Linked DNA regions of Homo sapiens: all the other regions are linked to region 2. The links come from fine-mapping of genetic effects on gene expression. A gene starts in region 2. Each other region holds a variant in brackets. All regions are shown on one strand. Distances are between the middles of the regions.

Region 1 (8,314 bases), 70 kb after region 2:
GAGGTTGCAGTGAGCCGAGATCACGCCACTGCACTCCAGCCTGGGCAACAAGAGTGAAACTCTGTCTCAGAAAAAAAAAAAAATTATATATATATATATGTATGTTCCCTTCTCAACAGAAATATAATTTTGAGTCTTTCTATTGTTATTGTAGAGTTAATGAAAATATTATTGATACACACAGCAAGTGAACGGCTTCATTTTAATGAATGAAGATCATGAACAAGAATTTTTTTTCCTACCCTGTTTACAAAGGGCTTCTCAGGCAGGGAAAAACCTCTAATTACACTAAAACTGCTCTAAATCTATGGAGCCCGTGTATGGCCATGTGTCCCACAAGTGGTGCACTACCTGAAGGAAGTCCAGGCTCACTAGTCTCTGAGCCTTCAACCAGCTGGGAAGAGTTTCCCATGTTTGTTTGTTTGTTTGCTTTTTTTTTTTTTTTTGAGAGATGGAGTCTCACTGTCACCCAGGCTGGAGTGCAGTGGCACGATCTTGGCTCATTGCAAGCTCTGCCTCCCGTGTTCACGCCATTCTCCTCAGCCGCCCGAGTAGCTGGGATTACAGGCGCCCGGGGATTACAGGCGCCCGTCACCACACCCGGCTAACTTTTTGTATTTTTAGTAGAGATGGGGTTTAACCATGTTAGCCAGTATGGTCTCGATCTCCTGACCTCGTGATCCGCCCACCTCGGCCTCCCAAAGTGCTGGGATTACAGGCGTGAGCCACCGCGCCCGGCCGAGTTTCCCATGTTTGGAATCCATTTTCACAGTGCCTCTTTTCTTCACAGAGTTGAGTGCTCCAAACAGAATCAAACTCCAATGAATAACAAGTAATTTTGGAATGTTTTACATCATGGTAAGTCAACAAATTCACTCAGCTTTAACATCTCAATGGAAGGAGCACAGAAGCAGCCTTGTTACAGAGATAATTATTAAGCATTATCTACTGCAGGTTCTTAGTTACGCTCTTAGCGGCTAAGGCTTGCTCTAACTACAGTAAATCAGATCAGGGCTTTAAAAAGACTCCATATATGGCAATTACATAGGACTACCTTTCTTGAAATATGCTTCTTCCAAGCTTGGCTAATGAACACCCCAAACACTGAAGTCCAAATACAAAAATTCGTTTTCCTTCAATAAGCTATATTAATCTGGACATACCAAAACAATACACAGTGATAAGAAAAGTTTATGATATGCGGCCGGGTGCAGTGGCTCATGCCTGTAATCCCAGAATTTTGGGAGGCTGAGGTGGGTGGATCACCTGAGGTGAGGAGACCAGCCTGGCCAACATGGTGAAATCCCGTCTCTACTAAAAATACAAAAATTAGCTGGGCGTGGTGATGCATGTTTATAATCCCAGCTACTCGGGAGGCTAAGGAAGGGGAATTGCTTAAACCCGGGAGGCAGAGGTTGCAGTGAGCCGAGATCGCACCACTGCACTCCAGTCTGGGTGACAGAACAAGACTCTGTCTCAAAAAAAAAAAAAAAAAAAAAGTTTATGATATGCAACACATCAGGCTTAGAGAGGAACACACAATTTTTTCTGTGCTAAACAGAAGCAATTAAGTGTATTTTCACAGGGACTTCTAAACCGAACTCTTAGGAAAGAACTACTTATCAATAATCAAAGTAAGTCCATCAAAGCTGTCAACTTATTTTGAAAAACCTTCATTTAAGATGTCCTCTTTTCCTTTGAAAAAATACAATATAATTTAGAAATAAGACACATGCCTTCTGCTTTTGTATATTATCAAACTGCCTAAAAAGAGCCAAACACTTTCAAAGGCATGTTTGCAGAAGAAATAAAGATAAGAAAGCCATAATGATAGCTTAATGGGTAAGGGATAAGAGTCACACTCGATTCTGCCAAAAGCAGACCTGTAGAGGTTCAGACACGCATCCAAGAATCAGCTCTGTCTGCCAACATATCAAACGGTCAGTGCGTGCAACTGGCAAGAAAGCCCAGGGAGCTGCCACGGAGCCTGTCACTGTCACTCATGAGGAAAGACAGACAAGTTCACCAGATAGCTAAAACTGCAGAGGACCTCCCCTTTAAACCAAAGCTAAGCATTCTTCCCTCTAGAGAACTTACACTCTAAGGCCCAACACATTCTGCCAACAATTCACTTGCTGAAATAAATTTCTCTGATTAACTATCCTACAGAGAATTCAGGCTTTTGGCAATACAGTATTGCCTTGCTATGGCAAATGATGGCACACTGTTTTACAAATGGCCTTTCTCAAGATGAAAGAAACTACTTACTTAATGGATACCTACCACACATTGTGACTGCTAACAGCTATCCTAAGTCAGTCATGTTGCATAGGATAGACAAGTCATTGAAAAGTTGGCTGGGTGTGGTGGCTCATGCCTCTAATCCCAACACTTTGGGAGGCTGAGGCAGGAGGTTCACTTGAGCCCAGGAGTTCAAGACCAGCCTGGGCAACACAGTGGGACCTTGTTTATTTTTTAAAAATTTGTTAACTAAAAAAAAAAAAGAAAAAAGTTAGGAGGTGTGATAGGACATTTCATTGCCTTCCACAAAAAATATCCAGATCCATCTAAGAATATCAAACATTAAATGTTTCCTTTGCTTTTCAAATGAAGGCCCCTTTCTTTTGAAAATGTAAAAAAAAATACAAATTACAAAAATTAAAGGTATTTGAACTATTTTGTATTGAGAAATTTTAAGAAGTGGAGTTTTGAGTAAGAGTTTTCTATTTCCTTAGACCCGTTTAAAGATATAGCAACCTATTATGATTTCATATAAAATATTTCACTGTTTCTCATCTTGAGAGAGGTACATGGCTCACACAAGATCAAGAAAAGCCAAATTAATTTGGTATCTTCGTAAAATCCCTTGAGACTTCTAGAGATGCTGTGAAATGTCACAGAAACAGAGCTGGGAATCACTCTCATACATATGTTGTCTTTGTGATTCATTTATTATTTAGATCTAACCTACTTTCTAGAAGGATCTGAGGAGGCTGGAGATTTTCTCAGTATGGTGCCAAGCAAAAAGGTGGTTTAATAAAAAGCTTTTTGGTGGTGATGTTAAGAGTTATAAAATTTCTTTTTCCTGAAACTCTGTGCTTGAGAAAATAAATAAAGAGAAAAAAAGTTATGCAATTTCTAAAGATGATACTGACAAAGATCTCTTACACCAGGAAACAAAAACAAGAAAACGGGCTTTGGGTATAGACAAATACATTTTTTATATAGAAAAATGGAATAGGTATATAAACATAAGTCAGGCCTGGCAAGTGAAAAGGCAAATACCTCTGCCTCAGCAGATCATTTCCTTTAAGACAAGAATAAGCATGGAGGCTCTCTAAGAACATCAAAGGGTTAGGAAAGAGTGAGAAGACAAGAAAGGCTCTAGGATAGAGGGGCAGAAAACACACACACAGGAAAAAGGATATGGAGCCTAAGACTGACTGACGTGGGATCATAACAGATTTTGGCATGTTACAAACACTTAGGTAGATGAGATGTTGTATATCCGCAAGAAACTCTGGAAAATGTCATTCAATTATCTTTGCAGCTTAACCCTTTTGGCCAAAAAACCCACTCATTTCAGACCACCACTGAACACTAATATGGTAGAGAAAGAGTCCAACTTCTAAAATTTAAATTGTAATATCTACTTATTGAATATTGAACAATGATTAAAAGACTTAGGACAGGTAATTTTAAAATGCTACTCTTCAAGGTCTTCAGTTTATCATTTAAAAATTTGGTGCCTCTGTCTAAATTAAATCAAATCTGAATATATTAACCCGAAATACTCCTTCCACAATCCCATTAACATTATAATCTCAGTACAGAATTTAGACACATGAAATGACCATTGAACTTCTTTAGGAATTAGGAAAATAAACCCAACAATATCACAACTGATTACTCCCACTTGCAAAAGTTTTATTCTTAAACAATGGGCAACCCTAAGTAAAACAGTGAATTGCACTAGGGTTTTGCCTTTGCTGTTAGGATGTATATCTGCTACTGCCACACAGTACCCATAGCTCCTTAAAATACAGCTTCCAAAGTGTGGTGTAAATCAGGGGTCCCCAACCTCAGGGTCACGGATTGGTACTGGTCTGTGGCCTGTTAGGAACCAGGCTGCACAGCAGAAGGTGAGTGGCAGACAACAGAGCATTACTGCCTGAGCTCTGCTTCTTGTCAGATCAGCTGTGGCAATAGATTCTCATAGGAGCTCCAGCCCTACTGTGAACTGCACATACGAGGGATCTAGATTGTGGCTCCTTATGAGAATCTAATGCCTGATGATCTGTCATTGTCTTCCATCACCTCCAGATGGAACTGCTGTTTAGATGCAGGAAAACAAGCTCCAGGCTCCCACTGATTCTACATGATGGTGAGTTGCATAATTATTTCATTATTTATTACAACACCTATAGAAATAAAGTACACAATAAATGTAATGTGTTTGAATCATCCTGAAACAATCCCCCAATCCCCGTCCATTGAAAAATGGTCTTCCACAAAGCCGGTCCCTGGTGCCAAAAAGGTTGGGGAATGCTGGTGTAAATGATTACGGTTCTGCCAAATGTTGGACATGTCCAACCCCCCCCCCCCAA[C/A]TGGTATTCTAGTCGCTCTAGTATCCCACACAAATATCATCTTTATGTATCATAAGGGAGAGACAAAGGCAGGGGGAAGCATGGCCCCTGACCTCCATGGATTTGAATTCCCATTTCCTAGGCTTCCAAAAATCTATAGTTAGGGATCTGGGAAATAGGTCAGATGGGGTGTAAAAAAGGGGGGGAACTTCTTTTCTCTACTTTCCCTAACTTCTACTCTCCTACACATTTTTCTACCAATTTACTAATCGATCATCCACAGCAGGGTTGTAAGCACAAATACCTCACGGACTATAAGAGACCTCAGGGTGTGGTGAGATCAGTGATGAAAATGTCTTACCTACAATTCTGGCTGACTGCAGTACTTGCAGGAATCCAAGTGCTGTGTGGTCACACACGTCATTTTATCACAAGAAAAATCAGAAATCCAGGTTAAGGATGTATAAAATATGGTAATTTTTAAATGTTGGTAGCAAATGCTTAGCCTGTGCTTTCCTTTTATTAAAAAGAAAAAGCTGGCCGGGTGCGGTGGCTCACGCTTGTAATCCCAGCACTTTGGGAGGCCAAGGTGGGTGGATCACTTGAGGCCAGGAGTTCAAGACCAGCCTGGCCAACATAGTAAAACCCCATCTCTACTAAAAATACAAAAAATTAGCCAGGCATGGTGGCATGTGCCTGTAATCCCAGCTACTGGTGAGGCCGAGGCAGAAGAATTGCTTGAGCCTGGGAGGCAGAGGTTGCGGTGAGCTGAGATTGTGCCAGTGCACTCCAGTCTGGGCAACAGAGCAAGATTCCACCTCAAAAAAACAAAACAAAACAACAACAAAAAAACAACAACAACAAAAACAAAGGCCGGGCGTGGTGGCTCACGTCTGTAATCCCAGCACTTTGGGAGGCCGAGGCAGGTGGATCACCTGAAGTCAGGAGTTCAAGACCAGCCTGGCCAACATGGTGAAATCCCATTTCTACTAACAATACAAAAATTAGCCGGGCATGGTGGCGTGTGCCTGTAATCCCAGCTCAGGAGGCTGAGGCAGAAGAATCACTTGAACCTGGGTGGTGGAGGTTGCAGTGAGCCGAGATTGCGCCACTGTACTCCAGCCTGGGTGACAAGAGCAAAACTCCGTCTCAGGAAAAAAAAAAAAGAAAAGAAAAAGCAGAAGCTGAGCATGCCTGGAAGCAGTGACTTTGTAAGTGACTCAGACCTGCCTGGATCCTCCAGCACACTGAACCTGAAGGGCCCAGTCTGGAGGTTTATTCTGCACACTCCAGAGGAGCTTCGCTTAGACTAGCGGTTACTCTGTTTCAATTTTTACCTACACAGATAACTTCATTGTGTAAACAGAAGGTGAAAACCTACATATTACATGTTAACATATTTCTGTCACTTAAGTACAAACAATGATTTCCTTTGTGAGTTCTCAAAAGAAAAAACATTTGAAGTATTGAATATTTAACATAATTATCTAAAAGATAAATGATACAGGCATGGTTAACTTTACAAATCTTTACAATTTAGATAACACCACAATAAAAAAAAAAAGATAAAAAGTGCTTTTATCTGACAACACTACCTGAGGAGGAAAAAGCCAGTAATTAGTGAATCATAATGAAAAGAATCTGCTTTGGAAATTCTGAAATGTTCATGGATTTACAAAGTTACCAAGAAGGCACTTGGTAAAGGCTCTACCAGAATACTAAGCAGCGCCTACAATGAGCCAGAAAGCAATATATGTATTTTTAAAACATTTGAACTAACAGTGTCACTGAGTCAGACTCAGCCACTGAGCCTTAAGTCCCTCTATGTTTTCGTGGTGATTTTACCTCTTCAATCTACAAATGTGGCAACAGCAAGGCTCTTTCCTTATCTTGGTCCAGAAGGCCAGACTAATGCAGTTGCCACAGACCCTTTCTCCTTCACTGATTACAGAATCATACCAAGCACAGCGGTGCCGCAACTGATGGTGGAAGACTGCCTTTCTTCAGGCTAAGAAAGAAGTACTGCACTGAATTCAAAGATATCAAAGAATGAATCACGGAAATTTTCTTGTTGTTTATGAATTCCTCTTTCAGTGTGGAGGGAGAACTCACATTTTTGGATTGGACAAATTGTAAACTTATCTTGTAAGGAAATTTCTTGCGCTGTGCTTTAAAAGTCTGAAGATTTGCTCCAAATGCCAACAGCCACCTACCATCTCTACTGTTCTGAGACTTGCCCTTGAACTGAGAAAGGACAAGCAGAGAGACAAAAAAAGCACACACTACAGCATTTCTTCTACTAAAACTTTCCATTTGGCAGTGGCATTTTCAACACTATGGAAATGAACCTCCCTACTTTTTCTAGTGATCTAATTTTCATTAAAAGCACTATGTATCAAGAGATCGATGCCCGATATAAAGGAAAAGTGATAAGTGAAGCAGAAACGAAGGGGTACTTCTCTCTGGCTTTTGGAGGTAAGTTCTTAAAAATATTAAATAGCAATAATATTTAACATTTTAAATTATACTTAAGAGGTAATTGTCTTTTTCGGTTAAGCAAGCTAAAGAGCAACATATTAGACTAGTAGATATATGACATTAACTCCTTTTTAAGAAAATTTCAGATCAGATTTTACTCACATAGGATCACTTTGAAAGTGTTTCATACAAACCACAAACTTGTAATTGTTTAAACCTGTCAAGGTAAAATAAAATTCGGGAAATGTCTGTGTTCTTTTGAAAAACTCAAAAGGGCTTTGTCCATTTTCCCAAAACTGCTTTTGGTTTTACAGAAAACATTAAAAAATACAAAAAGTGGCATTAAGTGGGAGATACATGCCTTAGGGTGTTACATGAAGGAAACATGAAAAAGTTGTCCTTATAAATGATAAACTTCCAGTAAAAAGATGCCGTATCTAACATGCACATAAAGTAAAACAATCATTGTTTTTGGTTAAAACTACCATTACACACTGGTCTATGGTGAGAATAAGGTTAGGTCTGAGAAGAGAAAATCAAGACCATATACTCTTTCCCAACAATGGGTGAGTACTGCTGCTGAAAATGACCAAGAAAAAATATGTACATACCCTTACTGTCTCTCTGGTAGATCAGACTGTCACTGTTACTAGCCCAGTCATTCAAATTTACAAGCAATAACTCTCAAATCACAGACCTTAAATCATTAATTTTTATCATTAATCTACAGGGAGTTGTTTTAAGAATAAACATGCATAGCTTTGGGCTTACTGTAGTAGCACATTTCATTAAGAATCCTGACCCAGCGGGGTGCAGTGGCTATAGTGTAATCCTAGCACTTTGGGAGGCTGAGGTGGGAAGATCGCTTGAGGCCAGGAGTTGGAGACCAGGTTGGTCAACACAGCAAGACCCTATCACTACAAAAAATTTGCAGAGACCCTATCTCTATTTAAAAGAAAAAAATTTAGCTGGTGTAGTAGCTCACACCTATAGTCCTAGCTACTCAGGGCAGTGGCTGAGGATGGAGGATCATTTGGACACTATAGCCTGGGCAACAGAGTGAGACCTTGTCTCAGAAAAAAAAAAAAAAGAATCTTCACCCTTACCAAGAAGGCAGAGTTTTGACATAGAAAGTTCTAACGCAGTTTAGTAACTTCAGCTTATAATTTTCTAAGAAAATATAATAGAACCTAAGGACTAAAAATATAAACAAAATTCTTTATAAGCGCACAGTAGTTTTAATCTATATG
Region 2 (8,314 bases):
AAATAAGTTTTCCCTCCTTTTTTGCATATTTTAAACATATACATACACACACACAGTCACTGTATTTTACATATCCTTTTTTTCTTTTGCAAATGGATATTTTTTGAGTTCAGTGAGCTTCCCTCTCCAAGACATTACAATGTAAACATGGTGTAACTCTCGGACACCACAGTATGTTTCCGGAGGGGTAACGGCGGTGAGGAAATCAGACTTTGCCTAACAAAGAACTAGGAGACACACTTGACATTCCACTCTTTTGGAGCACCCTACATTTGTAAATCTTATTTCTCTCCAAGTGCCTTTCAGACTGACTAATATCCACCGCGGCTGTACCTGGCCTTCCCTTTCACCTTTTTCACCATTCTCCAGCCTGGCACAGACTGCTTGCCCAAGAGGCATTCTTTTTTTTTTTTGAGAAGAAGTTTCAATTTTGTTGCCCAGGCCAGAGTGCAATGGTGCAATCTCAGCTCACCGCAACTTCTGCCTCCCGGGTTCAAGTGATTCTCCTGCCTCAGCCTCCTGAGTAGCTGGGATTACAGGCGCCCGCCACCACGTCCAGCTAATTTTTTGTATTTTTAGTAGGGACAGGGTTTCACCATGTTGGCCAAGCTGGTCTCGATCTCCTGACCTTCAGGTGATCCACTCGCCTACACCTCCCAAAGTGCTGGGATTAAAGGGATGAGTCACTGCGCCTGGCCGAAACATTATTTATTTTTGGAGACAGGGTCTTGCTAATGTTACCCAGGCTGGTCTTGAACTCCTGGCCTCAAGCGAACCTTCTGCCTTGGCCTCCCAAAGTGCTGGCATACATGTAACACCATGCCCAACTATTTTTCTTTTCTTGGCCTTTCTTTCTTTCTCTCTCTCTCTCTTTCTTTCTTTTGAGACACAGTCTCACTCTGTCACCCATGCTGCAGTGTGTGGCATGTTCAAGGCTCACTACAGCCTCAACTTCCTGGGCTCAAGTGATCCTCTGCCTCAGCCTCCCATGTAGCTGGGACTACAGGTACACATCACCACACCTAGCCAATTAAAAAAAATGTTTGGCCGGGGGCAGTGGTTCACACTCGTAATCCCAGCACTTCGGGAGGCCGAGGTGGGTGGATCACCTGAGGTCAAGAGACCAGCCTGGCCAAGATGGTGAAACCCCATCTCTACTAAAAATACAAAAATTAGCCGGTGCGGTGGCGGATGCCTGTAGTCCCAGCTACTCAGGAGGCTAGGGCAGGAGAATCAGTTGAACCTGGGAGGCAGAGGTTGCAGTGAGCCAAGATTGTGCTGCTGCACTCTAGCCTGGGCGATAGAGCAAGACTCCATCTCAAAAAAAAAATTTTTTTTTTAAGCTATGGGGTCTCACTGTGTTGCCCAGGTTGGTCTGGAACTCCTGGGCTCAAGCAATCCTCCCACCTTGGCCTCCCAAAGTGCTGTGATTACAGGCATGAACCACCATGCCCTGCCAAGAAGCATTCCTGACAGCATGAGCCCCAACCAGACAGTACGGAATGGCCACCAATTCCCAGCCTGGGCAAGTAACTTAACACACTAGCCTCAGTGTTCCCGTCTATAAAATGTGAATACAACACAATCTATCTCACAGGGTTATTCTCAGGATGCAACAAACGATGATGCTGTGTCATACCAGATACCTACTTGGCAGCTCAGGAACCCTGTAAACATCTGCATGTTTTATCTAGCCCTGAAAGATGCTCAGATGTGCAATACTACTTAGTTGGGTAATTGCTGCCTCTCTCCAGCTAGACCTCAGACCCCCTGAAACGGCCAAAGGTAGCAGGTCCAACAGTACCAAATAAGCAATACAAGGCCTGCAGAGCTACCGTGTGCCAGGCTGGTGAAAGGGGAGCTGAGAGTAAGCCAGGTCCCTGCCCAGGCAGGGGATACCCCACATAAGTGGTAAGACTGACACAAACCCAGGAGAGCTAACAGGTCCAAAGTGTGCAAGGCAGTGGGTGGGGGAAGGGCTTTGAAAGACATCTAATCCCTTCTGAGAACAGGGTGTCTTAGAGGCACAAAGGGTGAATGCGTATCCACCCAGAAAGGTGAACAGATTTACTTCTTAATAATATATCCTGAATGAAATTGGCCAGAAGCCAGAATCTTGTCTGTCTGAAACAGAGCTTGTTTGGGAAGGTCCCGAGAAATCATCCATCACGCAGCCCTCACAACCCTGTCATGAGCCCGGAGCACTGCTGGCACTGTGGCCTCAAAGCAGCCTCCAAGTAGAGCACTGGAGTCCTTGAAACCACCCAGCGTGGTTAAGTGCCATTACTGTCCCCGCTTTACAGAGCGGGAAGCAGGCTCTGAAGTAATTCACTGACTGACCCCCTCACCCACCCCACTGGACACCTCCAGCTGCATGCACGGTGGCCCTCATTAATTATCCCTGTCTCCGCTACAGAGGAGGCTCCTTGGGTGTCCACCTTCTGGGCCAAAAGGGCTGGCCAGGGAAGGATCTTGGGGCCTAGGCACGCCAGCTCCTGCCTGGGAGATACAGCACCTGGTGGCTGGCCCTGCCCCAGGACGTCACTCCCGGCGCTAGGGCCCTGGAACTCCGTCCTTCCGGCGCTCAGCCTTCTCAGTCTCCTTGCCCTCCGCCTCCTCCCGCCCCAGGTCAAATCTTAGACCTCCTTTTCACAATGGATCCCAGGGTTCTGCACCCACGTGCCACCGCCCTCCTCCCCTCTTCCCCCAATCAGCCCCGCCGCTGCCTGGCGTCTCAGCAGCCCCCTGCTCCAAACTCGGACCCAACCCAGGGGTGGCAGGAGACAGGGGTAGGGGAGCGTAGTCTGAGGTGGGGAGAAGGCCGGGCCCCCGAGTCTCCTGCAAGAGGAATTAAAAACAGGGTCTCTAGAGTCGGACTGCTGGGGCTCAAATCAGATCTCCCTGTGTGTAACTTTGGGTAGCTGACTAACTCGGAGCCTCCGTTTCCCCATCTGGAAGGGGGAACACTCCCGGCGGCGCCCACACAGCCAGGTGGTGGAGAGGGTTAAGAGGGCCGCGTTCTGTAGAACAGCAGTAATGGTGGCCTTCCCGGCATCACCCTAGAGGGTACTTGGCGAGTCGCGAGCCCATCCCCCGCGCCACCATGCAGCTGCGCGGCCGGCGATCCGCGTGGGGAAGAGCCGGCCTGAGGCGCACGGAGGACCAGAGGCCCACGCGGCCGAGCCCGGGCGTAGGGCGAGTGTGCGGCGCAGCGGAAGCCGCCTGCAGCCCGGGGCCCTGCGAGGCGCGCGTCTCCGCCCTCCGACGGCGCCCGGGCCACCTTCCTCGTCTAGGCATCTCGCAGCGCGACCCAGAGCCCGCGGCGACTCTGGCCGCCGCAGACGCCCCCCGCCCCGCCCGAGCCGCGTCCCCGGCCGGCGCCGCGCACTCACCCAGAGCCCGCCGCAGTGGTGGCCTGGATGGAGCTGATACGTAGGCGGTTGGCCGTGTCCTTCAAGGCCTGCAGCTTCTGCTGGTCAGGCTTGTGGTAGCTCTCCATGGTGCGGCAGGCGGGGACCGGGCGCACACGCGGACACACAGAGATAGCGGCTGCTCCCGCGGCGACAGGCGGCTGCCGAGGCCGGGCGCGGGGCGGGGGCGCGTTAAGTCGCCGGGCGGGGCGGGGCGGGGATGGGAGAGGCGGGGCAGGGGGAGGAGGCGGGGCTCGGATCACCCCAGGCCTTCAGCCCCGCCCCGCCTGGGGCCGCCTCCTGCCCGCTCCCCTCCCCTAGGCGCTGGGCCGCTGCGGACTGCGAGGTTAGCAGTTAACCACACACACCAATAATAATAACATAACGAACAACTCAGGATTCGAGTCTGGGCTCCTGACTCGAAAGCCTCTCAGTCTCCCTCCTCCACACAGTCCTCCGTGGACTTGTCACGGCGAATCCCATTTTAGAGATGGACAAACTGAGGCTTGGCAAGGGCAATCAAGGTCACAAGGCTGGTGGGTGCCAGGCTTGGCCCCAGCCGACCAACCCCAGGCCCAAGAGACTGCAGGACTTAATTTTGAGACTGAGTTTCGCTGTTGTTGCCCAGGCTGGAGTGCAATGGCATGATCTTGGCTCACCACAACCTCCGCCTCCTGAGTTCAAGCAATTCTCCTGCCTCAGCCTCCCTAGTAGCTGGGATTACAAGCATGCGCCACCACACCTAGCTAATTTTGTATTTTTAGTAGAGACGGGGTTTCTCCATGTTGGTCAGGCTGATCTTGAACTCCCGACCTCAGGTGATCCGCCTCGGCCTCCCAAAGTGCTGGGGTTACAGGGGTGAGCCACCGCACCAGGCCCTATTTCTTTTTTCTAATAATTAAAAAACTTGTTTTTTCTTTGAGACGGGGTCACCCATGGTCACCCAGGCTGGAATGCAGTGGAGTGATTACAGCTGCCTGAAGCCTCAGCCTCCTGGGCTCAAGTGATCCTTCTGCCTCAGCCTCAAAAGTAGCTGGGACCATAGGTACACACTACCACGCCCGGCTAATTTTTGTATGTTTTGTAGAGATGGGGTTTTGCCACTTTACCCAGGCAGGTCTTGAACTCCTAGGCTCAAGCCATCTGCCCTCCTCTGCCTCCCAAAGTGCCGGATTATAGGTATGAGCCACCATGCCCAGCCACTCAGGGCTTTAGAGCCCTGCACAGGGGATGGGGATTATTGAAAATGAGAATAGGATAGTGGTAGCCATGACAATGCCAGGTGATGATAACTGAGAAATTACTAGGGGAAGATCCTTTACAAATTATTAGGGCCTAGAAACACTACTGACTTTTAGGGAGATTATTGGGTTTGCTTCCAGGTCTGTAGGGACAGGGGCACCCACCACTACTGTTATCAGACCCCATGGTTCCCAGAGGTATGAAGCTCCCCAGAGTGGGATTAGGGAGGGGACTTTCATCACAGACACTGTTTCATTCAATCTGCCCACCACACTTGGCCAGTGAGGTACATACTGCCTACAATGCCTATTTTACAGAGGAAGAAGCTCCATTTGACAGAGGAAAGATAAAGGCAAGACCCTCAAACGGATGGCTGGGCAGGGAGCTAAAACCCTGAGAGATCCAAGAGGCACCAGTGGCCGCCCTGTGTCCTCTGTGTCCTCCCTGCATTGCCCATACTCAGAGAGCTCTGGCTCATGAGGCGATTGACTGAATTTGAGTGAGTCCCCCAGCTCGCCTCCAGGTGCTCCTCTGCTGGCCTGACCCCCAGATGCCCAATCAGACCCTAAGTATGGCATCCCATAGCACCTGGCTCCTGCTGGCCCAGCCCGCAGAGGCTGGCCCTATGGTGTCTGGCTGGTGAGGGCTATGGGCTAGGATTGGAGGGGGGCCCCACAGTGTGCCACCCTCAGATGCCTGGCAGGTGCCACCTCTGCCCTCAAGCTGCTCACTGTCTGGAAAAAGGGCAAACCCTTGAAACCCTTTGAAAGCTCTGTGCCTTCCAACTCTGTGGCCCTTAGAGCAGTGGCTCCCTAAGGGAGTGGACTCCATTTCCCCATCTGCCTAATGGGACTCATCCTTATCACTCTGGTCTCTGACAATGGCACAGAACTCACCATGGCTCTGGGGACCTAGGAGTAATGGAAAGAAAATTGTCCCCTCCCCACCACCTGGAGCTCCAGGGACCTCAGGGAGGCTCTCTCTCCTCCTGGTGTTCCACATGAATGGGGCCTGTGATACTATGATATGCATATACAGGCCCCTGGCTTAGAACTGCCCCCAACCCTTGTTATACCACTGGGGTGCTTTAGACCTCAGGAGCAGACCCCAGAAACAGAGTCTCTCAGGCCTTCTCCTACCTTCCTTTCACCTGCTCCTTTCTCTCCCCATGGCAGGATCTTCTCCTGCCGGTCTGTCTTGGAGCTGGCCATAAGTAAGTTCTCTCACCTACCTCGTGTAATTGTAGGTCATTAGACCCCCATGAGAAGGGGTTCTGTCCCATACCCATGAGGAGGGAAGACCAGAGTGGGTGCAGAGTGATAAGGATGAGTCCCGTTAGGCAGATGGGGAAATTGAGGCCACTCCCTTAGGGAGCCACTGTCCTAAGGGCCACAGAGTTGGATGGCACAGAGTTTTCAAAAGGTTTCAAGAGTCTGCCCTTTTACCAGACAGTGAGCTTCACAGAGAGGTCAAGAAGAGTCAGGACACACAGGTCTTGCGGGGTTTCCCCACTCAGTCAGTTAGTATTAGATCATATACTTTTGGTCTAATCACATTTCCACAAGGTTGTCAATCATGTCTGTCCAATGAAATGTCCATGAAAGGCTCAAGAGGACAGGGTTCAGGAGCTTCTGGACAGCGGAACACGTGGAGGCTCACAGGAAGGTGAACAAGAACTCATCCACGTGCTGGGAGGGTGGAACATTCCAGCTCCATGGAGACAATGGCTCCTTCACTAGGGACCTTTCCAGGCCTCCGCCTATGTATCTCTTTGCCTAACTGTTTCTTTGTCTCCTTTAAAATATCCTTTGTAACTAACCGATAAATGTGCTTTCCTGAGTTTTGAGAGCTGCGCTAGCAAATTAATTGAACCCAAAGAGGGAGTGGTGGGAACCCCAACTTGAAGCTGGTCAGTCCCAATCTTGCGACTCATGGGAAGGAGGAGGTGCTCTTGGGGGACTGAATCCTTAACCTGTGGTTTCTGAGGCTATCTCCAGGTAATTAGCATCAGAATGGAATAGAGTTGGAGGACACCCAGCTGGTGTTGCTGCAGAATTGGTTGCTTGCTTGGTGCATGGGGAGAAACCCCCACACATTTGATCACAGGAGTCTTTTGTGTTAATTGTTGTGGTGTGAGAACAGAGGAAAAACAGAGTTTGAGTGTTTTCCCTTTCACAGGGCCCAAGGGTTCAGCCTTATTTCAAGAGCTCTTGGTCTTCCTGAAGGTCAGCTTCAGAACCAGAATCCTAGGCTAGCTGGAGGTGTTGCTAGCACCCAGTTTGTCCAGGGTGGTTCCCTTGTCCCCAGGTCCCAGGGTCTTTATTCGAACCCTCACGCCTCAGAAGTCACATGGCACTTGGAAGAAAGCCCTGGGATCCTGTCTGGCTTCCAGCTAACATCTGGCTCCCTGCTGCCCTCACACCCCATCCTCTCTCAGCCTCCTGTTCACCCTCCCCATGGCTGCCAGAGAAGTGTTCCTCCCCAGCTTAACTCCCATGTTGTTCTTCCTCCACCCTTTGGATATAATTCAGGTCCCCCAGCCCTACCCATCTCAGCCACACTGACCTCGCATTCCTTAAAAAATACCAAGCCCACTCCCTCCTAGAGGTTTTGCACAGGCTGCTCCCTGAGCCAGCAGAGCCCTTCCTGAGGCTCCTCACATGGCCTGGATCTAGAGCCATGCTGCCCATCACACTGCCTGTCTTGGTCTCTGCAGGGCTCTCTGCCTATCTGCATGATCTTTGGTCAGCTCCCGGAGAGCCGGAATACAATCTCTTGTCCCTGGCTCTATCCGCAGGGACTACAACTGGGTCTCATATACAATAGGGGCTCAATGAATGCCTGCAGAATGAAAGCATGAATGTCAAGTGATGTGCCTGAGGACACAGAGTCAGCAAGTGCCAGGGCTGCACCCAAGCCAAGAGGGCATCAGGGAGGCCTCAGGGGAGGGAATCTGGCCATTCAGACTGGTGTCCTTCATTCCGGCCTTTCCAGAAACCGAGACACAAAGGTGCTCTGTTGGAGGGTAGGAAGTGGCAGAAATGTCCTACTGCCGGCATCAGGTGCCAGCAGAGGCCACAGTGACCTGAGAGCAGAGCCACATTCTGGAATCTGAGCTGTCCCCCAGGACCCGTGCAGCACTAGGGAGAAGGTCACCCTTAGAGGAGCCAGAACAGTGTGAGTCCCCACGTAAGAGTCCCCCACAGCCACTCCCCAGGGATCTCCAGTATCACTAAAAGGGACCTGAGGGGGGTTGGGGTCCTGAGGGGTGCCATGCCACCCAGTATTGTTCCTGGGCAATGGCTTTGATCACCAAGGCAGTGCTGATGGATTGTACTGGCTGCCTAGAGTGGAATGTGAAGCAGAGAGTTCTGAATTGCCCTTCAGCCTGAAATGCCAGGACCGGTCTAGCCATACTGGGCAGGGGCACCTTGCATAAGAGACTGGCAGTGTCAGGAAGTCATGTCCCACCTCTTCATGTCCCCTGTACTTTGGGGACCCAGAGGGGGCTGCACTTGGGCCGGGCATGACGAATCCCAGATTGCAGGAACTGTTTGGCACACACACACACTGACACTCACAGACAATGCTCACACACCCTCTCACGTTTGTTGTTGTTAAGAGATAAGGTCTCATGCTATGTTGCCCAGGCTAGTTTTGAA
Region 3 (8,314 bases), 220 kb after region 2:
TTGATTGTGTCTCTATCTCTTTCAGTTCTGCTCTGATCTTAGTTATTTCTTGTCTTCTGCTAGCTTTTGAATTTGATTGCTCTTGCTTCTCTAGTTCTTTTAATTGTGATGTTAGGGTGTTGATTTTAGATCTTTCCTGCCCTCTCTTGTGAGCATTTAGTGCTATAAATTTCCCTGTACACACTGCTTTAAATGTGTCCCAGAGATTTTGGTATGTTGTGTCTTTGTTCTCATTGGTTTCAAAGAACATCTTTATTTCTGCCTTTATTTCATTATTTACCCAGTAGTCATTCAGGAGCAAGTTGTTCAGTTTCCATGTAGATGTGCATTTTTGAGTGAGTTTCTTAATCCTGAGTTCTAATTTGATTGCACTGTGGTCTGAGAGAGAGTTTGTTGTGATTTCCGTTCTTTTACATTTGCTGAGGAGTGCTTTACTTCCAATTATGTGGTCAATTTTAGAATAAGTGCGATGTGGTGCTGAGAAGAAAGTGTATTCTGTTGATTTGGGGTGAAGAGTTCTGTAGATGTCTATTAGGTCTGTTTGTTGCAGAGCTGAGTTCAGGTCTTGGATATCCCTGTTAACCTTCTGTCTCATTGATCTGTCTAATATTGACAGAGGGGTGTTAAAGTCTCCTGTTATTATTGTGTGGGAGTCTAAGTCTCTTTGTAGGTCTCTAAGGACTTGCTTTATGAATCTGGGTGCTCCTGTATTGGGTGCATATGTATTTAGGATAGTTAGCTCTTCTTGTTGAATTGATCCCTTTACCGTTATGTAATGGCCTTCTTTGTCTCTTTTCATTTTTGTTGGTTTAAAGTCTGTTTTATCAGAGACTAGGATTACAACCCCTGCTTTTTTTTGCTTTCCATTTGCTTGGTAGTTCTTCCTCCATCCCTTTATTTTGAGCCTATGTGCATCTTTGCATGTGAGATGGGTCTCCTGAATACAGCACACTGATGGGTCTTGACTCCTCATCCAATTTGCCGGTCTGTGTCTTTTAATTGGGGCATTTAGCCCATTTACATTTAAGGTTAATATTGTTGTGTGTGAATTTGATCCTGTCATTATGATGTTTGCTGGTTATTTTGCCCATTAATTGATGAGGTTTCTTCGTAGCATCGATGGTGTTTACAATTTGGCATGTTTTTGCAGTGGCTGGTACTGGTTGTTCCTTTCCATGTTTAGTGCTTCCTTCAGGAGCTCTTGTAAGGCAGGCCTGGTGGTGACAAAATCTCTCAGCATTTGCTTGTCTGTAAAGGATTTTATTTCTCCTTCACTTATGAAGCTTAGTTTGGCTGGATATGAAATTCTGGGTTGAAAATTCTTTTCTTTAAGAATGCTGAATATTGGCCCCCACTCTCTCCTGGCTGTAGGGTTTCTGCTGAGAGATCTGCTGTTAGTCTGATGGGCTTCCCTTTGTGGGTAACTCGACCTTTCTCTCTGGCTGCCCTTAACACTTTTTCCTTCATTTCAACCTTGGCGAATCTGACAATTATGTGTCTTGGGGTTGTTCTTCTGGAGGAGTATCTTTGTGGTGTTCTCTGTATTTCCTGAATTTGAATGTTTACCTGCCTTACTATGTTGGGGAAGTTCTCCTGGATAATATCCTGAATGTTTTCCAACTTGGGTCCCTTCTCCCCATCACTTTCAGGTACACCAATCAAACATAGACTTGGTCTTTTCACATAGTCCCATATTTCTTGGAGGCTTTGTTCGTTTCTTTTTACTCTTTTTTCTCTAAACTTCTCTTCTTGCTTCATTTCATTCATTTGATCTTCAATCACTGATACCCTTTCTTCCACTTGATCGAATCGGCTATTGAAGCTTGTGCATGTGTCACAAAGTTCTTGTGCCATGGTTTTCAGCTCCATCAAGTCATTTAAGGTCTTCTCTACACCCTTTTTCTAGTTAGCCATTCATCTAATTGTTTTTCAAGGTTTTTAGCTCCCTTGTGATGGGTTCAAACCTCCTCCTTCAGCTTGGAGAAGTTTGTTACTACTGACTTGCTGAAGCCTACTTCTGTCAACTCGTCAAAGTCATTCTTTATCCAGCTTTGTTCCATTGCTGGTGAGGAGCTGCAGTCCTTTGGAGGAGAACAGGCACTCTGGTTTTTAGAATTTTCAGCTTTTCTGCTCCAGTTTCTCCCCATCTTTGTGGTTTTATCTACCGTTGGTCTTTGATGTTGGTGACCTACAGATGGGGTTTTGGTATAGATGTCCTTTTTGTTGATGTTGATGCTGTTTCTTTCTGTTGGTTAGTTTTCCTTCTAACAGTCAGGTCCCTCAGCTGCAGGTCTGTTGGAGTTTGCTGGAGTTCCACTCCAGACCCTGCATGCCTGGGTATCACCAGTGGAGGCTGCAGAACAGCAAATATTGCTGCCTGATCCTTCCTCTGGAAGCTTCATCCCAGAGGGACAGCCACCTATATGAGGTGTCTGTTGGCCCCTACTGGGAGGTGTCTCCCAGTTAGGCTACACAGGGGTCAGGGACCCACTTGAGGAGGCAGTCTGTCTGTTCTCAGAGCTAAAACACTGTGCTGGTGAGAGAGAACCACTGCTCTCTTCTGAGCTGTCAGACAGGGATATTTAAGTCTGCAGAAGTTGTCTGCTGCCTTTTGTTCAGCTATGCCCTGCCCACAGAGGTGGAGTCTAGAGCCAGTAGGCCTGATTGAGCTGTGGTGGACCCCACTCAGTTCAAGCTTCCTGGCCACTTTGTTTACCTACTGGCCTCAGCAATGGCAGACGCCCCTCCCCCAGCCAGGCTGCTGCCTCACAGTTTGATCTCAGATTGCTGGGCTAGCAGTGAGCAAGGCTCCATGGGTGGCAGCCACCGAGCCAGGCAAGGAAGAGAATCACCTTGTCTGCTGGTTCCTAAGACCTTGGGAAAAGTCCACAGTCTTTGGGTGGGAGTGTCCCATTTTTCCAAGTAGTGTGTCACAGCGTCTCTTGGCTAGGAAAGGGAAATCCCTGACCCCTTGTGCTTCCCAGGTGAGGCGATGCCTGCCCTGCTTCAGCTTGTCCTCCATGGGCTGCACCCACTGTCCAACCAGTCCCAATGAGATGAACCAGGTACCTCAGTTGGAAACGTAGAAATCACC[C/T]ATCTTCTGTGTCGATCACGCTGGGAGTTGCAGACTGAAGCTGTTCCTATTCGGCCATCTTGGAAAGTCTCATAATACTTTCATTTTTAAAAAACATACAGGGTATTAAAAATTTCAATATGATTTTAGGTCAGTTTTAGTAAGTTTGTTCTTTTAGAAATTTGTTTCCTTTAATCTAAGGTGTTAATTTTTTGCCATAATACACTTCATACTATTTCAGTGTTAGCCTTTTAATATTTGTAGGATCTATCCTTTCTTTCATTTGTAGTAGTAACAGCTTTTGTTTTCCTTTCTTCTTGATCATCCTAACCAGGAGTTTACTGATTCCATTAAATGTTTCAAAAACCAACGTTTGGATTTGTTATTTTTGTATACTCTTTGTTTTCTAGTTTCTTGATTTCTGCTTTATATTTATGATTTCTCTCCGTTCACAGATTTTGGGTTTAATTTGCTCTTCTTTTTTTAACTTCTTAAAATAGAAACTTAAAATAATTGATTTTAAATCTTTCTTCTTTCCTAATATAAGCAATAGACACTAAAAATTTCCCTCTAGGCACTGCAGTGCTGCATCCCATAAAATTTGATATGTTTTAATTTCATTCAGTTCAAAAATATTTTCTAATTTCCCTGTGATTTCTTTTTTTTATTTAATAAAGTTTTGTTTTTCCAAATGTACAGTCAGTTGGACCTGTTCATGCATCTTCACCAGCAGTTGTGGCATCTCCACTTTTGGTATTTCTGGTGTAAATGACTCGAGCTCTGTGTTTTGAAACCAGTTTGATAAGTCCTTTGCCAAGGAGCTCCTGTAGGGCTGCCCTGGCCAGGGAGCCTCGAATCTCCAATCTCTGAGAGACCACAGCTGGGGTTATAAACCTATAGCTGGAAACTTCCTTACAGAGTTTGTCATACAAAGCTTCCTTACAGTAGCATTGTCAAACAAGACTTGGTTATTGAGCTTATCCCAAATTTTGCCTTTGGACCACTCCTTTTTGGCTTTGCCCCTGGATTTGTTCACTGGGTTTTTGTCTTTTTTGGCCAACTTCCCGGGGTCTTTCCTCTTGTTGTCCTCGGATGGCATTGTGAAGCTTGCAGAGCAGCGGCAATCGCTGCAGCCTTGCTGAGATGTCAGACGAAAAGTGATTTCTTTGATGCACAGGTTATTTGAAAATGTGTTGTTTAATTTTCAAATATTTGGGGGGCTGTAATAGATATCTTTTTGTTATTGATTTCTAATTTAATTTCAGCGTGGTTAGAAAACAATGTATATTCTGTGGTTGTTGAGTTTAGTGTTCTATTTTATTTATTTATTTGTTCTAGTTTTTTTAGAGACAGTCTTGCTCTGTCACTCAGGCTGGAGTGCAGTGGTGTGCTCAGCCTCCCAAATAGATGGGACTACAGGTATGTTCCACTATGCCCAGCTAATTTTTTAATAGAGATGGGGTCTTGATATGTTGCCCATGCTGGTCTCCAGCTCCTGGCCTTAAGTGATCCTCCTACCTTGGCCTCTGAAAACTCTGGGATTATAGGCATGAGCCACCACATCTGGCCTAGTGTTCTATAAATGTCAATTAGGTTAAGGTGATTGATAGCATTGTTGAGATATTCTACATCATTTTTGATTTTTAATAATCTAGTTGTTTTGTCAATTACTGAGAGAGGGGTGTTAACATCTCTAACTATGATTGTGGATTTGTTTATTTCTCCCTTTAGCTCTTTCAGTTTTTGCTTTATGCATTTTGAAGCTGTTATTAAACACACATTTATAATTGCTATGCCTTTTGATGAAATGACCCTTTTATCATTACGAAATATTGTTCTTTATTTTTGGTAATCTTTCTTATCCTGAAGTCTATTTTGACTGATATTAATCTAGCCATTCCATATTTCCTATGATTAGTGCTTGCATGATATTTCTTTTAAAATTTTTAAGTTTTAAACCTATATGTGTCTTTGTATTTAATGTATCTCTTGTAGATAACATATAGTTGGATCATAACTTTTATCTACTATAAACAATCTATTTCTTTTTCTTATAGCATTTAGTCAATCTACATTTAAGATAATTATTGATATGGTTGGATTTAGTTCTCTCACTTTTATTTGTTTTCTATTTTTCTGATATGACTTGTTTCTTGGTTCCACTTTTCTTGCCTTTTTTGGGAATTAATATGGTTTAGTATTTCATTTTAATTTTTAGCTATAGCTCTTTGCATATTTTTAGTGGTTACTTTTGGGGTTAAAATAATTTTTTTTAATATTTTAAGTTCTAGGGTACATGTGCAGAACGTGCAGGTTTGTTACATAGGTATACACATGCCATGTTGGTTTGCTGCACCCATCAACCTGTCATCTACATTAGGTATTTCTCCTAATGCTATCCCTCCCTGAGCCCCCCACTCCCTGGCAGGCCCCGGTATGTGATCCCCTTCCCCCTGTGTCCATGTGTTCTCATTGTTCAACTCCCACTTATGAGTGAGAACATGCGGTGTTTGGTTTTCTGTTCCTGTGTTAGTTTGCTGAGAATGATGGTTTCCAGCTCCATCCATGTCCCTGCAAAGGACATCCTTTTTTATGGCTGCATAGTATTCCATGGTGTATATGTGCCACATTTTCTTTATCCAGTTTATCATTGATGGGGATTTGGGTTGGTTCCAAGTCTTTATGTTCTATTATGAACAGTGCTGCAATAAACATGTGTGCATGTGTATTTGTAGTAGAATAATTTATAATCCTTTGGATATATACCCGGTAATGGGATTGCTGGGTCAAATGGTATTTCTAGTTCTAGATCCTTGAGGAATCACCACACTGTCTTCCACAATGGTTGAACTAATTTTCACTCCCACCAACAGTGTAAAAGCATTCGTATTTCTCCACATCCTCTCCAGCACCTGTTGCTTCCTGACTTTTTAATGATCGCCATTGTAACTGGCCGTGAGATGGTATCTCATTGTGGTTTTGATTTGCATTTCTCTAATGACCAGTGATGATGAGCTTTTTTCCATATGTTTGTTGGCTGCATAAATGTCTTCTTTTGAGAAGTGTCTGTTCATATCCTTCACCCACTTTTTGATGGGGTTGTTTGTTTTTGTCTTTTAAATTTGTTTAAGTTCTTTATAGATTCTGGATGTTAGCCCTTTGTCAGATGGGTAGATTGCAAAAATTTTCTCCCATTCTGTAGGTTACCTGTTTACTCTGATGACAGTTTCTTTTGCTGTGCAGAAGCTCTTGAGTTTGATTAGATCCCATTTGTCAATTTTGGCTTTTGTTGCCATTGCTTTTGTTGTTTTAGTCATGAAGTCTTTGCCCATGCCTATGTCCTGAATGGTATTGTCTAGGTTTTCTTCTAGGGTTTTTATGGTTTTAGGTCTTATGTTTAAGTCTTTAATCCATCTTGAGTTAATTTTTTTATAAGGTGTAAGGAAGGGGTCCAGTGTCAGCTTTCTGCATATGGCTAGCCAGTTTTCCCAACACCATTTATTAAATAGGGAATCCTTTTTATTGCCCTCTATATTGCTTGGGGAAATGCCCTCTATATTTTTTTTAGTGATTTGTAGATTCTACTGAAAGAAAAATGAAAACTTGTTCACAGGCAGTGTTGAAAGGATAGCTTTCAACTTTTTAAAGGGTTGAAAATTTAAACTACTCTCCATAGTTTCCGGAAAACATCCTCAAGCCTTTACAATTGAGGGTGAGGGCTGTGGCAGCTTTAAAGTTCAAGAGAAGGAAAATACGTTAATTTTCAAAGTTTTCTCCTATTTCAGATCTTTCTGAGGAAAATAATGTGAGGCCAGGTGTGGTGGCTTATACCTGTAATCCTAATACTTTGGGAGGCCCAGGCAGGAGGACCACTTGAGGCCAGGAGTCCAAGACCAGCCTGGGCAATATAAGGAGACCCTGTCTCTACAAAAAAAAAAACACACACAAAAAATACTGGGAGTGGTAGTGTGTGGCTGGAGTCCTAGCTACATGGGAGGCTGAGGTGGGAGGATCACTTGAGCCTGGGAGTTTGAGGTTGCAGTGAGCTATGATTTTGCCACTGCACTCCAGCCTGGGCAACAGAATGAGACCCTGTCTCAAAAAAAAAAAAAAAAAAAAAAAAAAGAAAAGAAAAGAAAAAAGAAAAATAATGGGAAAGAATCCCTTCACATATCCAGTGGCAGATCTGACCTGCCAGAGCCCTGTTCATCTTGACAATGAGTCAGGTGATCTGGGTTCATGGCCACACTGCATGACGTCTGTTCAGAGCAGCACCCAGGGGTTCTCTTCCTTAGCCAGTAGCTTTCTCAGCTTTCTCATGGACCTAGGAACTCCCCAGTGCCTAGATGCAGTGGAGCACATAGATAGCCTTGTGTTGTCTGGAAATGTCTGTGTTTCTGTGTAGTCTCTGCCAGTCCAATCCCAGGATGGAGGGTGGATGTGGGAACCTCTGTTTTTTAATTAGCCTTTAGGGCATAGTCTGCTCTCCACACACTTGTCAGAACAAAGGGATCTTTTTTCTTCAGGGAATAGCATTAAGAAGCAGGAGGTGGAGTAGTATACTTGTCCTGTTTGAAATGGCTTTTATCTGCTGTTGCATCAGTGATCTTTGACAGCTGATCTGCAGTTCTGGCTTAACCATTTACTAGTTGCATAACCTTGGCAAACTCACATCCCAGCATAATGAATCTAGTTTACTCCTTTATGAACTGGAAGTGTTAATATTTTCCCTGACCTACCTCAGAGGCTTAAAGGGTTGCATGGAGATGAAAACCCATTATAAAAATAAATTATTACTATGAAGGGTTAGAGAAGTTTGTCTTAAGAAGAAGGGTAATTTTAAAAAAGAAGTCTTTGTTGCCCCCTGAGTGAGCACAGTTCTTGGGGTAGAAACGGGATATAGGACAATCTGGCACTGAGTCTGCTGAAGGCTGTCCTGCCACTGCTACATCTTGCCCTTCTCTCCTAACCTCACTGCCCCAGGGGTGGAGACAGTCATGACACTGGGCAGGCCAGCCCTCCTCTGTGCTGCTGGCCACCTATGCGGCACAGTCTTGTCAGAGAGCTGACAATCAGCTCCCTGCTGCTTTCTCATCTTTTAAAGTCCAATTAAACATCTCTGGCCACAGCATGATAATTGTCTGGGCTCCACACAGTGGAACGTGACCTGAGGTGGCATTAGGAGACCAGAAAAGAAAGAAAAGCCCTTTTATCTTGGAAAGATCATGTCCCCAGTTCCTT

Evidence for each region. PIP is the estimated chance that this variant, and not a neighbour inherited with it, causes the effect. A credible set is the group of variants that fine-mapping cannot tell apart.
Region 1: its variant is the best candidate, but not a certain one, in a credible set for the expression of TKT in whole blood (TOPMed, PIP 0.51).
Region 3: its variant is the best candidate, but not a certain one, in a credible set for the expression of TKT in whole blood (INTERVAL, PIP 0.79).

Annotation. Positions count from the first base shown.
Region 1 is chr3:53,322,384-53,330,697 of GRCh38, forward strand. The region is part of intron 3 of DCP1A (decapping mRNA 1A); the gene reads right to left. LOC124909380 (a long non-coding RNA gene) reads left to right here and starts at 782. Exons shown (of 2, transcript XR_007095912.1): 1 at 782-858; 2 at 4,324-4,451. The variant C/A (reference allele first, on the strand shown) is at 4,608.
Region 2 is chr3:53,252,444-53,260,757 of GRCh38, forward strand. It overlaps TKT (transketolase), which reads right to left and starts at 3,579. Exons shown (of 14, transcript NM_001064.4): 1 at 3,393-3,579. The coding sequence starts at 3,499. RefSeq lists silencers at 3,176-3,865, 6,130-6,424 and an enhancer at 6,130-6,424.
Region 3 is chr3:53,470,918-53,479,231 of GRCh38, forward strand. It overlaps the pseudogene RPS25P4. Among named protein-coding and RNA genes, the nearest start is that of CACNA1D, 20 kb to the right of the region's middle. RefSeq lists an enhancer at 2,300-2,803 and a silencer at 7,905-8,199. The variant C/T (reference allele first, on the strand shown) is at 3,095.